Regions from separate parts of the Homo sapiens genome. Here region 2 is linked to region 1. Evidence: fine-mapped expression QTL. Tissue or cell type: Th17 cells. Region 1 holds a variant in brackets; the other region holds the start of a gene. All regions are shown on one strand. Distances are between the middles of the regions.

Region 1 (8,259 bases):
CCACGGGCCCAGGATGGGCATGAAGGTGCACACAAAGGCAGGGCTGTGGGGATGCCAGTCAGCCTCCACCTGGGACCCTAGGATCTCCTGGGACTGGCCAAACAGGGGGGCCACACAGGGATGGGCTTGGGAGAGGGCAGCTAAGACCAATGGGTGAGTAGAGGCAGAGCCAGTGGGCAGAGGATCTGGGCTCTCAGCTCACAGAGGAGAGAGGAGGCGCCATCTGCCTCCCAGCTTTAAGCTTTTCTCCTTAGGGAGAGTGAGCACAAAGAGAAACCTCTCCTTTCTTCTCAGGTCTCTCATCTTGACCCTTTCCAGGTCAGGTGGGGACAGCCCGGAGTTTTGAGAGGTGGATGAACACTGGTCTGGCTGTGACAGGTGCTCCATCTGGGGCTGCTGGGGAAGGGGCAAGGCTGCCCTCCCCAAGGTAGGTTCCCTGCAGGACGGCCACCTTGCTGCCGGCAGAGCAGGAGCCTGCCTGGCTGAGAACTACCCTACTCCTGATACATGGTCCCCCTCGTCTTGTCTGTCTTTCAGACCCAAATACACGCAGACCTGGCAACAGTGAGAAACAGGACTGGCTTTCTCCTCATGGGGCCATGAAAGGGGCAGGTCTGGCTCCAGGTCACAGAGCAAGACAGTGGCAGAGGCAGGACCAGGGGATGGCCAGGACCCAGATGCTGCCTGTCCACACAGCATGCGGCAGGGACCTGGAAGGGAGCACCATGGGCTCCGCAGCCAGCTGGGCTTGGGGGCAAATCACAGCTCCTGCTTCCCCAACAGGAGGACACAGGCCAAGCTCCCTGAAGGGCGCTCCTAGAAAACAGTCCTCAGGAAAGTGTGGGAGATCACTAACTAGCACCAGTAAAGTAGTCAGGCCCACGGGGAAAGCCTTTGGAACCATCTGGAGCGATCGGAGTGAGAGAGAGAGATGGGACCACTGTTGTAAGAATAGCAGAAGGAGCCACTCATGTCGGAGAAGCCTCCCCGTGTGGAAACGACCCTTGTGTGGGTAACTCAGGGTCCCTTGGGGGCCCTCTTTCTGGGAAGAGGCTGTATTACCTTCAGTTTTCTGCTGCTGGGTCTCTGTTTCCATGATCTTTGCCATTAGAGAAATTTTACTTTCCATCAGGGACCATCTCATCGTGACCCCCCCACGTGCTAACTTCTCTGAGCCCAGTTTCCTGATGAGGCATGGGGGCCACAGGACACAGGCCTGGAAGCAGTGAGAAGCAGTTTCAAGAGGGAGTGCATCCAGGTGCAGAGATCTGGGACCGAGATCTCTTTCTTTGCCTCCCCCACTTCACCTGGGTACCCCTGTGATGGTTACTATTGAGTGTCAACTTGACTGGATTGAAGGATGCAAAGTATTGTTCCTGGGTGTGTCTGTGAGGGTGTTGCCAAAGGAGATTAACCTTTGAGTCAGTGGACTGGGAAAGGCAGACCCACCCCCAGTCTGGGTGGGCACAATCTAATCAGCTGCCAGAGTGGCCAGAATAAAAGCAGGTAGAAGAACGTGGAAATTCTAGACTGGTTTAGTCTTCCAGCCTACATCTTTCTCCCGTACTGGATGCTTCCTGCCCGCGAACATCAGACTCCAAGTTCTTCAGCTTTGGGACTCTTGGACCTTCGACCACAGACTGAAGGCTGCACTGTTGGCTTCCCTACTTTTGGGGTTTTGGGATTCGGACTGGCTTTCTTGCACCTCAGCTTGCAGATGGCCTATTGTAGGACCTCACCTTGTGATCATGTGAGTCAATACTCCGTAATAAACTCCCCTTCATCTATACATCTATCCTGTTAGCACTGTCCCTTTAGAGAACCCTAACTAATACAACCTACCCATCCTTCAGAAGGTGGCTGAGTCATCACCTCCTCAAGGAAACCTTCCCTGACGTTCCAAGCTAGGGGAGTCCCACATAGTATCTGTCCTCAGAGAATCATGGAATTCTTCCTAGCACTAATCCCAAGGGTAATTTTATATTTATTTGTGTGATCATTTGATTAATGTCTACCTCTCCCCAAAGACTATAATAATCTCCACAAGGGTAGGGTCACAACCATTTTCATTCGCTCCTGCATATTCAGAGCCTTTATGTAGGGTGTGGAGCACGGAAGCTTGATAAGTATCTGTTGTGTACATGAATGAATGAATGAATGAGTGAATGAATGAATAGCACATGGCCAAGAAGGAGAGGATCACTGAGGGCTTTCTGGACTATGGCAGGACTTTGGGAGTCTGGGCTGGCAAGAGTAAGTTTTATGTTGGGTAGAAAAGAGCTCTCCCTAAAGCAGGGGCCAAACCAGTCCGCTAGGGCTGTGTTTACAGCTAGGGTGGAATTGGTGAGATGGGGAGAGATGCCTTGGGGGTGAATTCAGTTTACCCCCCTACATCCTACTCTCAAGGAAATGCATCTATTCTATTCTCCCTGGTCCCCAGACTCTTCCAGATGTAGGCTGCTAGCCCTGGGCCCATGCCTAAAATTAGTAATCTCCCTGGAGTGGCCATGAAGAGGAACTCCTCCATAGAACCAGTCATCCTGTTCACCGGATTGTTGAGGGCCCTTGTAGAAGGCCCACATTGTTGAAGGCCCTCAACAATGTGAGACTCAAAGATCCACACACTTTGGGCTCATTCCCATTGGCCCATCCATAGGCTTTCTCCAGCCTTCCTTGTATCCAGTCATCCAGTCTTGCTCCCTTCTGTGATCTTGACCAATCAGCTAAGCTATTTGTCACTTACCCAGTCTTCTTAGAAAGGAGCTAAGTGATCATTAATAGAATGTTCATAGAAATATGGATGGTAATGGCCATTCTGATGAAGTCTCAGATAGAAATGAGGAATATGTTATTGGAAACTGGAGGAAAAGTGATCCTTGTTATAAAATGGCAAAGAATTTGGTAGTATTGTGTTCCTGTCCTAGTGCTTTGTGGAAGCTAGAACTTCTGAGCAATGAAACAAGACATTCAGTGGAAGAAATCTCTAAACAAAGTTATTGAGGATGTGGCATGGCTTCTCTTGACTGTGGTAAAAACACAAGAAGATATAAATTAATTAAAGATGCAATTTATAGTCAAAAGGGAAGCAGAACTTAAAGATTTGGAAAATTCTTAGCCTGGCCAGGTTGTAAAGAATGTAAAAGTGTGTTTGAGAGATAACACCAACAGTGTGTGGCCAAGTGAAGGTTGGCCAGATGCTATTCATCAAGACAATGGATGAATAATCCCCAAAATATTTTGGCAGTCTTCAAGACTGCCACTCCCTTTACCAGAATGCCCGGGCATCGGGGGCAGAATGGTTTCAAAGCTCTTCTCCCCAAATTCTTGTACAATGCTCCTTGGTCACCCAGCTGTGGCTCAAGAGAGCTCAGGTGTGGCTTGGGCCAACTATCAGGTAGGCACAGATGAGGAACCATGGTGGCATCAACACAGTGCCAACTCCAGGAGTGTGCAGAGTGAACAAGTTGTGGGGACATGGCTACCTCCACCTAGATTTCAAGGGATGCCCTGGAGAACCTCAGGTCCCAGCCCAAGAACTGCCACAGGGGTGGGGCCACCACAGAGATCCTCCACTAGAGTGATGTCCAGTGGACCCACAGGGGCAGAGCTAGAGCTGCCCCTTAGACTACAGGCCAGTAGAGCCACCAGCAGGTAATTCTACCTTGGGAGAACCACATACATGTGATTCCAACCCATTAGGGCTGCAGTGTGGGCTGTGCTTAGCACAGCCATGGGAGCACGGCCACCCAAAGCCACGTGAGCCAACCCCTACCACAGTTTGTCCAGAAGTAGGACAACAAGTCTAAGACATTATTTGCAGGCTTTAAGATTTAATGTTGTTTTCCCTGTTGGGTTTTGGACTTACTTGGGACCAGTTACCTCTTTCTTCTTACTTCTCTTTTTTGTAATGGACATGTCTATCCTATGCCTGTCCCACTGTTGCATTTTGAAAGCACATAAATTGTTTAATTTCACAGGTTCACAGCTGGAAAGCAATTTGCTTCAGGATGGAGGTACCTTAAGTCTCAGCCATATCTGATTTAGATGATATTTAGATAAGACTCTGGACTTTAGACTTCTGAGCTGATGCTGAAATGAGTTATTGTTTGTGGGGCTACTGGGATGGAATGAATGTATTTTGCCTGTGAGAGGGACGTGAATTTTGGGGGAGCAAGGGAGGAATACTATGGTTTAAACGTTTTTGTCCCCCCGCACACAAAATTCATATGTTGAAACCTACCATCCAAGGTGGTGGTATTAAGAAGGGGGACCTTAGGCCGGGCGCGGTGGCTCACACCTGTAATCCCAGGACTTTGGGAGGCCGAGGCAGAAAGATCACGAGGTCAGGAGATTGAGACAATCCTGGCTAACACAGTGAAACCCTGCCTCTACTAAAAATACAAAAAATTAGCCAGGCGTGGTGGCGGGATCCTGTAATCCCAGCTACTCGGGAGGCTGAGGCAGGAGAATGGCATGAACCCAGGAGTTTGCAGTGAGCCAAGATTGCACCACTGCACTCCAGCCTGGGTGACAGAGCAAGACTCTGTCTCAAAAAAAAAAAAAAAAAAAAAAAAGAAGGGGGACCTTTGAGAGGTGATTAGGTCATGAGGGCTTCCCCACCCCTCATAAATGAAATTAGTGCCCTAATAAAAGCTTGAGGGAGCTCATTTACCCCATCTGCCATATGAGGACACAGCAACAGGCGTCATCTTTGAAGCAGAGACCAAGCCCTTGCCACGACACTGATTCTGTTGGCACACTTGATCTTGGACTTCCCAGCCTCCAGAACTGTGAACGATAACTTTCTCTTGTAAATTACCTAGCCTAAGGTATTTTGTTATAGCAGCCTGAACTAAGACAGGCCCCGAGGGCAATAAACACAGGAAGTATTTATTCATTAGTTTTCATCTCCCATTGGTCAAAGGTTGCCTGTGGGCATTAACTGCCCTCTACACACACACACACACACACACACACACACACA[A/CACACACAA]GAGGCATGTGCACACACACATACAGAGACAGAGGGAGACACAAGAGACATGCACGCACACACCTATGCAGAGACGGAGAGAGACATAAGAGACATGTGCACACACACAGAGACAGAGACACGAGAGACATGTGCAGACACACAGAGACAGAGACAGGAGAGACATGTGCACACACACACAGAGACACAGAGAGGCACGAGAGACATGCGTGCACACACACACAGACACGAGAGATGTGCACACACACAGAGACAGAGGAAGACACAAGAGGCATGTGCACACACACAGAGACATAGGGAGACACAAGAGATATGTACACACACACAGAGACATGAGAGATGTGCACACACACAGAGACAGAGACAGGAGAGACATATTCACACACAGAGATGGAGGGAGACATGAGAGACATGTGCACACACACAGAGACAGAGACAGGAGAGACATATGCACACACACACACAGAGACAGAGGGAGACATGAGAGACATGTGCACACACACAGAGACAGAGACAGGAGAGACATATGCACACACACAGAGACAGAGGGAGACATGAGAGACGTGCACACACACACAGGTGTCTGCACACATATTGACACATTTCCGATTTGCACATGCAGAAGTGCCACCTAGATTCCTGCAGATGTCTCACGTCATGACAAGGGGGCCTCATTCGCACCTGGAGTAAGGTGAGTCACTGTCAGGTTGCACCTGAGGGAGGTCTATCAGTCTGTTTTGTGTTGCTATAAAGGAATACCTGAGGCTGGGTAATTTATTTTAAAAAGGAGTTTATTTGGTTTATGGTTCCGCAGGCTGTACAAGAAGCATGGCACCAGCATCTGCATCTAGTGAGGCCTCAGCGAGTTTTTACTTATGGCAGAGGATGAAGAGGAGATGGCATCACATGGCTAGAGGGGGAGCAAGAGAGAGGAAGGAGGTGCCACATTGCTTTTTTAACAACCAGCTCTCGGGTTAACTAATAGAGCAAGAACTCCTTCATTACCGAGGGGAGGGCACCAAGCCATTCATGTGGGATCCACCCCCATGACCCAAACACCTCCCACTAAACCCACCTCCAACATTTGGGGATCACAGTTCAACGTGAGATTTGGAAGGGCCAAGCCTCCAAACTATATCAGGAGGCTACCAGCCTGTGTAGAGCTGGTCAGCCCAGGAGGGAGAGGTATGGCTGAGTGACCTGAGGTGTCTGATAGCATTACCTGCTTCAAGGTGTGCAGGCAGAACTCAAACTGGATGTTTTCAGTACAGGCAAAGGCTGGGCCCAAAGAGTGAACCCATCCATTCCTGGGTCCACCCATCCCTGTGACCATAATACCTCTGTGCAAAGAGGTCCCATGAGTGGTTTAGGGATGGGGGAGGGTAGCCAGGGTCTGAGCAGAGGGTCTGAGCTGGGCCCTGTGGTAGGCATAGGGGGTGTTTCTGAAGTCCCTGGAGGAGGGACCCCCGTCTGATTTGAAAAATGGTCTCGTTCTCCCTGCCTCACCATAACAAAGGTATCCTGGTCAGGAGACACGAGTGCGGCTTGCACATGTCAACTGTGAGGCTGGGACACTCCCAGAAAAGCTTTCCTGCCTGCCACAGCATCCCTGTCCTGCTGGTGTAATTAACCCTGAGCTAATGGGGCGAGGCCTGCAAGGAAGCAGTGTGCCATACCATAAGGTGGGTCTCAGCACTCCTTCCCGGCCCCTCCACATGCTTTCCCTTTCCTCTGCCCCCTGATTCATGGACGCCTCCCAGCCCCAGCCCCACTGAGAGTTCCTGGGCCAGGAGGAGCAACAGCGAGGATCCCAGGGCATCATGGACGTGGCCCAGAAAGCCCCCTGGACCCCCTTCCTCAAATCCAACAAGAGCCATTGATCAGGAGATTCTTTCTTGTTCTGGCCTAAATGTGCTGGTGGTATTCCTAGCCCAGAACCTAGAGACCCTGCTCCTTGCCCTAGGGGTTTCAGGGTATAGGGAGTCTCATCTCAACATTCCTCTTTCCTGACCCTCCTGGGGAAAGAGGGGCTTTGAGGGTAGAGCACGCTCCTGGGGGACCCCTGATAAAAGCCAGCTCTCCCACCACATGGAGAACCAGCCCCACACTCAGCCACAGAGGCTTTGTGGAGCTTGGGCCTTGGAAGTGGGCAGGCCTGGGTATAAATGCTGCTTCTGAGAGGCCTTGAGCAAGTTGCTACACCTCCTAAGTGTGCATTTTCTCACCTGTGAAATGCGGAAAAACTAGGACTAGCTCACAGGGTTGTCATCAGCACGAGCACTGAGGTGTGAACAGCACTTGGCACATAGTACACTCTCAGTAAATGATGGTTCTTATGACGATGATGCCAGGATGGAGATAGTGGACAGGGGCATCCTGCTGTCCAGAGGATGATGTTCAAGGCTGCAGCTGGGAAGAGAGGAGAGCAAGGGCTCACGTGGACGTCCACAGGACCACCAATGTGGGGCCCAGCTCCCCACAGGGCCTCCCAGACAAGCCCAGGCAGCCAACCCTCCACTGCCTGCCCCATCCTGCCCAACCCCACCACCCACCAATATCAGAAGAGACTGGAATCTAGAAAGGAGGGGAGTGTTTTCCCTCCTGGATGTCAAAGATGGGGAGTAGGACAGCAAGAGCCTTGAATTAAATGGGAGCCTGCAGGATTTAAATAAACAGAACTGGCTTTTAGAGAACGGGAGTAAGACTACTTAATAAACAAGTCAGGAAGCTGTGGTTAATGGAGCTCGATCCTCCAGGGTGGGTGTGTTAACAGGGTATCGACAGTTACTGGGGGGAAAACTAGCCGCTTCATGTTCACATCTCCATGAGCTGGGATGCCTGACTGGACATTGTTATCATCCTTTTCATTCATTAGGCGAACAGTATTATTTGTTGAGTACCTGCTGGTACAACTACCTCCCTTCACCAAGTGCCCTGAGGATGCATAGTCAGGGAACTTAGCTGGGTGCCTCTCAGGTCCCTGTTCCCCTGGGAAGGAGGCTCTGACTCAGTGCCTCAGGGGCACAAGTCAAGCAGGTCACATCCTAAAGCATGGGGAACCAAGGACCTGACAAGAGTGGCCTCCTGCAGTGCTAAAGGCATGAAGCCCACCTGAGTGTGAAGAGGGCAGCAAAGGGCCACAGCCCACAGCCAGCTTGGCAGTAGGAGGTGACATGCCCACAGTCCTGCAGCAGGGTCAGCTGAGTTGGGCTGGTCCCCAGGTCCCCAAGGTTCATGGTACAACCATCTCAGGTGAAACTGGCTCATGGCAGCTC
Region 2 (8,000 bases), 770 kb after region 1:
CTAGAGACCTTTGTTCATGTGTTTATCGGCTGTCCTTCTCTCCACTATTATCCTATGACCCTGCCACATCCCCCTCTCTGAGAAACACCCAAGAATGATCAATAAATACTAAAACAAACAAACAAAAAAAACTTCATTTCATGAAGATGAAGGAAGGGCTGGCTGCCCTGAGGCAAAGGTGTGCGCAGGAGAGTGGCTTCTTTTTATTTTATTTAATTTATTTTTTGAGACAGAGGTTTTGCTCTTGTTGCTCAGGCTGAAGTGCAATGGCGTGATCTTGGCTCACTGCAACCTCTGCCTCCTGGGTTTAAGCGATTCTCCTGTCTCACCCTCCTGAGTAGCTGGGATTACAGACACGTGCCAACACGCCCAGCTGATTTTTGTATTTTTAGTAGAGACGGGGTTTCACCATGTTGGCCAGGTTAGTCTTGAACTCCTGACCTCAGGTGATCCGTCCTCCTCAGCCTCCTAAAGTGCTGGGATTACAGGCATGAACCACCACATCCAGTCTCTTGAACAAAATCAGGATTCTGTTAGAAAAGAGAAGGTAATATGGCCATTGGGCAGGGAGCTAGGAGTGTTTGGTATTAATACCCTCCATCTCACCCACTCTCTCTCAGTAAATGACATACCATTCAACTCAACCAGTTCTTGTAGCCAGAAACCTGGGACTCATCCTCAGATCTCCACCTCTCTCCTCTTCCACACTATTCAATCAATAATTCCATTGATTCTACCTTGAACACAGCTCTGTAATCAGCCTTCTCTTTTGCCGCCCAAGTTCAGGAAACCACCATCACCTTTCATCTGGGGCCCTGCAGTGGACTGCATTGGTCTCCCTGCCTCTAGTCTTACTAAACCTCAATCCAAGTTCTAAGCTGCTGATAGTACCTTTTCTTAATGCAATTCTGATCATGTTATTTTCCCATTAAAAACCCTTCTTAAGTTTCCCATTGCTCTTAGGAGAAAGTTCAATCCTCATATCGTGCCTTCCAAGGCTTTCTAGCTTTTGGCCCTGACTATTTCTCTAGTCTCACCGCTTTCTTTTTTTTTTTTTTTTTTTTTTGAGACGGAGTCTTGCTTTGTTGCCAGGCTGGAGTGCAGTGGTGTGATCTCAGCTCACTGCAACCTCTGCCTTCTGGGTTCAAGAGATTCTCCTGCCTCAGCCTCCTGAGTAGCTGGGATTACAGGTGCGTGCCACCACATCCAGCTTATTTTTGTATATTTTTAAATAGAGACGGGTTTCACCATGTTGGTCAGGCTGGTCTCGAACTCCTGAGCTCGTGATCCGCCGGCCTTGGCCTCCCAAAGTGTTGGGATTACAGGCATGAGCCACCGCGCCCGGCCTAGTCTCACCTAACCGTTTTCTGGCTTTTGCCTTGTCCCCTTTGCCTTATTAATTCCATGTCATCATTCAGATTGCAGGTTACAGGTCACTTCCTTGAAGAGGTTTTCTGCTCCCATAATGTAATGCCCTGTACTTCCTATATCATTCTACTCACCCAAATTTATTATAATTATTTGTTGAAGTCTGTCTTTCTTCTAGACTATAAGTTCTGACTATAAGGCCTAGTAGGGCTACATCCCTACCCACCTATCACAGAGCATGACCACAGTAAGTGTTAAATAAGAGTTAGTTATAGATTTGAAAGTTTTCATGTTATAGGACCTCTAGGTGGTAGCTGACGCCAGAGATATACATGAGATAATCTAGACAAAGAGTATTGCTCTAGAGAGAGAGAGAGAACATGAGAAATAAGAAAGACAATGATGATTAAGATGATGAAATGAAGGCTGAGAAGGAGAATGAGAAATGAGTAGCAAAGAAGTAGGAATGGGCCGGGCGTGGTGGCTCATGCCTGTAATCCCAGCACTTTGGGAGGCCGAGGCAGGCAGATCACGAGGTCAGGGCTTCGAGACCAGTTTGGCCAACATGGTGAAACCCGGTCTCTACTAAAGGTACAAAAAATTAGCTGGGCGTGGTGGCAGGCGCCTGTAATCCCAGCTACTCTGGAGGCTGAGGCGGGAGAATTGCTTGAACCCGAGAGGCGGAGGTTGCAGTGAGCCGAGATCGCACCACCGCACTCCAGCCTGGGCGACAGAGCGAGACCCCATCTCAAAAAAAAAAAAAAAAGAAGTAGGAAGAACACGAGAAGAGAATGTAGTCGTGGCCTGGCACCGTGTCTCACGCCTGTAATCCCAACACTCTGGGAGGCTGAGGTGGGCAGATCATTTGAGGCCAGGAGTTCGAGGCTAGCCTGGCCAACATGATGAAAACACATCTCTACTAAAAATACTAAAATTAGCCAGGCATGGTGGTGCATGCCTGTGATCCCAGCTACTCAGGAGGCTGAGGTACAAGAATCACTTGAACCTGGGAGGTGGAGGTTGCAGTGAGCCGAAATCACACCACTGTACTCCAGCCTGGGTGACAGAGTGAGACTCTGTCTCAAAAAAGAAAAAAAAAAAAAAGAAGAGAATGTAGTCGCAAGCCAAAGAAGGAAATTAGAGACACCCAACAGGGTCACCCACAGCAAAGGGGACAGGATATGGACTGAAAAGTGCCACTAGATTTGGTCACTGAGTGAGAAAGATAATATTTGAGAAGAGATGGACTCCTTCTTTGTCAAACTAATGTACTTAAGAAGGTATTTTCCACCTTTACATTAATTCCTCTACCTATCCGTCCAGCAAAGATTCACTAAACATCTACTCTAGGCTGTGTACTGTGCTAGGCCCTAGGGAGACATGGTAGACCAAGGTCCTTTTGGGCCTATGGGCTCACTACACTTGCCTGCAAAGGAAAGTTACAATTCACCAGGGCTGGGTGTTTTACCAGACCTGATAATGACTGGCTCTCTGAATACATTCGATGAAACAAGAGCCAGTGTGCAAGTCTGGAGGTCAGTGAGACTTTATTATCTTGCTCTGAGCTGGCAGGAGGCAAAGGGAAAGTGTATGTAGAACATTATTATTGCATCACTGCTGTCTTCTTAAGTCAGTCACAGATGAGAGTCTGGGTTTTTCCAAGAAAATTGGTTCCATCTGCTCAAAGGCAGAAAAGTGATAGAGCAGTTCAATCAAAAGAGCATCCCCTTAAAATATTCTTTGAACTTGATCCTACTTTTTTTTCTGAAACAGAGTCTCGCTCTGTCACCCAGGCTGGAATGCACTGGCGTGATCTCAACTCACCGCAACCTCCGCCTCTCGGGATCAAGTGTTCTCCTGCCTCAGTCTCCCGAGTAGCTGGGATTACAGGCGCGTGCAACCACGCCCAGCTAATTTTTGTATTTTTACTAGGGACAGGGTTTCACTGTGTTGGCCAGGCTGGTTTCCAACTCCTGACGTCGGGTAATCCGCCCACCTCGGCCTCCCAAAGTGCTGGGATTGAAGGCGTAAGTCACCGCGCCTGGCCTTGACCCTAATTATTGACTAAACTATTGCTTCGCTAATTTTTTTTCCTGCCCTTCTGTTTTAACAGCAGTAAAACAGTGTGGTGAAATGTTCAAAAAATCAGTGAATCACAGCCTTCTGAAAATTAATGGGTGTCAGTGAGGTTTGGGAGTTGGATGGAGACAAAGGGAGCGACACCATAACTAACTGGAGATCTTACTAGGTTTTCATTTAATATTCATTTTTTACAATAGACATTGTTTGGAAAAAAGGGTTTAATTCAAAATGTCATTAAGGCACATTATCTTTAATGTTCTAGAAAAAGTTATTTAAAGAAATCCTGGCCATGAAATTAAAATAAATAAATAAATAAAACCAGGCATTCTTTGAAATGTGAATAATAATTTGCTAATTTATATTTAGGATTGTGGATATACTTTTTTTCTTTTACATGTATTCCTGGGGAGGTAAGTGATGCAAATATTTTCCCACTGCCTCAATCAGACTTTAGTTTTTGGGGTCTGGCCTGATATGATGGAATATAAACAGGAAATCAAGATCAGAAGAGCCTGTCCCTGAGAACACTCCTTCACGGGACTCTAGCTCACGCCTGGACCTTCCCAGTGCTTCCATCTGAAGCCCCTGGAGACCCAGGTGGGTTAAGTAGGGTGGCAGGGGGGATGGAGGGGGCGGGGGGCGCGGGGGCGTAAATCCTCCCCCACTGGGGAGGGTGACAGTAACAACTTCCAGATTGTTTACAAAGATACAGGCTCTGCTTCAGGCATTTGACGTGTATTAACTCGGGTAATCATCCCAGTAACTCATGAAATAGTTATATTATTATCTTCACTTCCCAGATAAGCAACGGAGTGAGAGAGATTATAGAAAGTGGAGAAGCGAGTACCTTACTAGTAGCCACTAGGGGTGTCAGTAATATGGCTCAACTTTGTTACGACGGATCAGAAAAATGCTCACCTTTAAGACCGCAAGCAGAGCCTGTCTGGGGAAGCAGGTGACTTATCAACGCCTTTTGAGATAAGGAATAGGACTGCGGGGAGGAGTGTGTGAGAATCAAAGGTGAGTTCCCTGTGTGCGTGGTCGGCGGTCAACTCCTAGCTAGTCCAAGCTTAGAGCCTGCGCATTTGCCCTCCCGGGTCAGAGCCCAAAGCCGAAGGAACAGAACCAGCGCCGGCGGCAGCCACGTGGCCCAGCCTCTGAGCCCTAGCTGCCATCGCGGAGGCTGGGCCCGAGGGGCGGGGCTGGGGAGTGCGGACACCCGGGCCTGGCGGAGTGCGCCTGCGCACGGGGTTGGCCCGGCGGGGGTGGGAACACTAGCAGAGCCGCGTTAAAGGCGCTCCCCGCCCCGCCCGCCGGTCCAGTGCTCGCAGTGCGCAGGCGTGGGGCTCTCTCCTTGTCAGTCGGCGCCGCGTGCGGGCTGGTGGCTCTGTGGCAGCGGCGGCGGCAGGACTCCGGCACTATGAGCGGCTTCAGCACCGAGGAGCGCGCCGCGCCCTTCTCCCTGGAGTACCGAGTCTTCCTCAGTGAGTGTCTGCGGCCCGTGGCCCCTCCGCGCCCGTCCGCCCATTCATTCCCGGGCCTTGCCTCCCCGGGAGGGTGCGGCCCGCGCTCGGCCCCAGGTCTCCGACGCGGGCCCGTCTCCTCGGGCGCGTTGTGGGGCCTGGCCGGCCTCACATTGCATACTTGCCGCCGCCGGTCGGGGCGGCGAGGGTCGCCTCCGGCCATCCCTCCCCGCTGAACGGAGATGGTCCCTTTGTCACGCCTCGGGGTACCCGAACCTGGGCCCAGCTAGTTTTGCAGGTGTCTGGCTCTGACAGGGTCTGTTGGGAAAAGGAAATCACCGACCCACCCTAGAAAGGTGCTTGGAAGTAACATAATTCCCGTAAGAGGATTGCTCAGTTTGGAGAAAAGGCGACTCCGGGCCGGGGGGGGCAGTGACTTCCTAAAGACCTTAATTCCGCCGCCGTAGCTCAGATTATCGGCGCTGAGCGGAGCCAAGTCCACCCCCTCGTTTTACAGACGGGAAAACTGAGGCCCGGATCGGGAGCCGTCTGTGAAGGCGCTGGACCGGTCCTCCGCGGCCCGGTCGTGCTCCTGCCTCTGCGCCGCCTGTTTTCCCTCAGCGCCGATGCTGGGAATGCTCCTTATGAAACAGAAAGCTGTTTCCCTCAAATCAAACAGATGACGTCAGTCTGGAAACAAGACTGAGAAAGTGCCAAGTTTTTACCTTTGCAGGATTCGGCGTCTAGGGGGTACCTACCCCGGGTCCTGCACCTAGGGCTGCACGGGGAAACCGGGAGGCTGCATGCTGGCGCCCTCCACGCTCCTTAGGGCACCACGTTTTTTTGGCCTTGTAGGTGGAGGAAAGCTACTTGGGGTTTTTCTTTATCCTCTTACTCCCCCCACCCCCAGCTACTAGGAGTAGATTATGGGCGATAACGGAGGCGTTCGTAAATGTGTCACCACAGGCGCTTCTATTGTAACCTCTTTACAGTTTTATTTGGAAGGAAATGGGCAGGTGCCTCGAACTCTGAGTTGGTGTATGAAGGAAGGGGAAGCGGGGAGTAGAGGAGACGAATGAATAGGCATTGAAGGAACAAAAAGTAGCCTGGTGCGGGAGGAAAAGGAAAGCGAACTGTAAAGCTTACACATCTAGCCAAAGGTTAACTATCAGGTAAAATCCAGGAAGGGTGAGAACTACCCCCCACTCTCCATTTTATTTAATTTTGCAATTAAGCAGCAAGGACAGTCCAGTAACTTTTGACTAATAATTCATGGGACTGTTTTTCTGGAAATAGTGTTGGCTCCAGAATTTCTCTGTAGGAAAGGCTTACAGAGGTGACTGTCTGGTTTGAAGGTGAGGGGTGGATCTTCAAGCTATATATGCAGAACAAACACACTGCTTTTACTTAGGTTATTTATTTGCAATTAATATTTGGTGGCCGTTATGGGAGACCAAAGCTACTCCTAGAATTTGGCACTAGCTGAAGTAACTGTTTTTATCAAGTGGAACTCTCTGGAACTTAAGAAATACTAATAATTAGAACCCACTACATAGTTATCCAATTTTAAGTGCTTTATCCTTCCTTAATAGAAATAAACTTTTTTAAGCTTTATAATATTACATTTGTCAATTTCTTTAAAACTGATAAAGGGCTGGACAGACTGCAAAGTCACAATTGGCCCTAAAGGGACTTTTATGTTTTATTGTTTGTTTTTTGAAACAAAGTCTCGCTCTGTTGCCCAGGCTGGAGTGCAGTGGCATGATCTTGGCTCATTGCAACTTCAGCCTCCCGGGTTCAAGTGATTCTCCTGCCTCAGCCTCCCAAGTAGCTGGGATTACAGGCACTTGCCACCATGCCTGACTAATTTTTGTATTTTTAGTAGAGACGGGGTTTCACCATGTTGGCCAGGCTGGTCTTGAACTCCTTACCTCCAGTGATCCACCTGCTTTGGCCTTCCAAAGTGCTGGGATTACAGGCGTGAGCCACCGTGCCTGGCCTCCACTTTGATTTTTAAACTTGAAGGGATGCGATGTGGACAGTAGGTTTCCTAAAGAATACTGAAGAAGTTTTAAAATTACTTTTTGGCTATAGTTAGGCCTCTAGAATATATTAGTAATATATATCTAGAATATAATAGAAATTATTTGTGAAGATGTTTGTTGCAACTTGATTATCCTTAAAGAAAGTCATAATCTAAGATGGCTGGCTGTCTCTGGGAACACCACTTTTAGCAACATTGTTTAGTAAAGTGGTCCCCTCCCTTCCTCCCAAGTACTTCATAATGGTTCTGTAAACTTAACTGATGTAAGATCAGTCCAAAACAATTTAATCGCCTTTTGTGTCCTCAGTAGTCTCTGCTCTCACTATAGAGATTAGTACTTATTAGATGCCTACAGAGTGCATAGGATGTAAACCCAGCCTAGCCTGGGAGTACAGTCAGGAGAAGTGAAGTATACAAACAGTTTTTCTAGTGTAAGAATAATATCTTGGTTTAAAAATGTGTACTGGTCGGGTGCAGGGTGCGGTGGCTCACCCCTGTAATTCCAGCCCTTTGGGAGGCTGAGGTGGGCAGACTGCTTTGAGCTCAGGAGTTGGAGACCAGCCTGGGGAACATGGCAACACCACCTCCCTACAAAAGACACAAAAATTAGCCAGACGTAGTGGCTCATGCCTGTAGTTCCAGCGGCTCAGGAGGCTGAGGCTGGAGGATCACTTGAGCCTTCAAGAGGGAAACAGAAGTGGCAGTGAGCCAAGATCACACCATTGCACACCATCCTGGGTGACAGAGTAAGGGACCTTATCTCAGAAAAAAAAAATGTGTACTGTGGGCATTTAGCAATACAATTAATTATAGTAATAACTTTTTCTAATTTATTTTGCAGAAAATGAGAAAGGACAATATATATCTCCATTTCATGATATTCCAATTTATGCAGATAAGGTAAGGCATCCTTGTTTTTGGACACAGTCTCTTTACTCAGATCAGCTAGTTCTACATATGAATTTTCTTATATGTCTCTCAACAAGTGCTTAAAATGCCTCGTTGTGCTGTGAGCTAAAGGTCTGTTGATTAGGCTGGGCGTG

What was found. PIP is the estimated chance that this variant, and not a neighbour inherited with it, causes the effect.
Region 2: it holds the start of PPA1, and the variant in region 1 is fine-mapped to the expression of PPA1 in Th17 cells (Schmiedel 2018, PIP 0.95).

Annotation. Positions count from the first base shown.
Region 1 is chr10:70,996,644-71,004,902 of GRCh38, reverse strand. It overlaps LOC105378350 (a long non-coding RNA gene), which reads right to left. Exons shown (of 3, transcript XR_001747493.2): 2 at 7,210-7,393; 3 at 5,758-5,894. It overlaps LOC105378351 (a long non-coding RNA gene), which reads left to right. Exons shown (of 3, transcript XR_946048.4): 2 at 319-427; 3 at 1,133-1,788. Among named protein-coding and RNA genes, the nearest start is that of LINC02622, 62 kb to the right of the region's middle. The variant A/CACACACAA (reference allele first, on the strand shown) is at 4,985.
Region 2 is chr10:70,230,198-70,238,197 of GRCh38, reverse strand. PPA1 (inorganic pyrophosphatase 1) reads left to right here and starts at 4,769. Exons shown (of 11, transcript NM_021129.4): 1 at 4,769-4,934; 2 at 7,799-7,857. The coding sequence starts at 4,871. RefSeq lists a silencer at 4,558-5,127.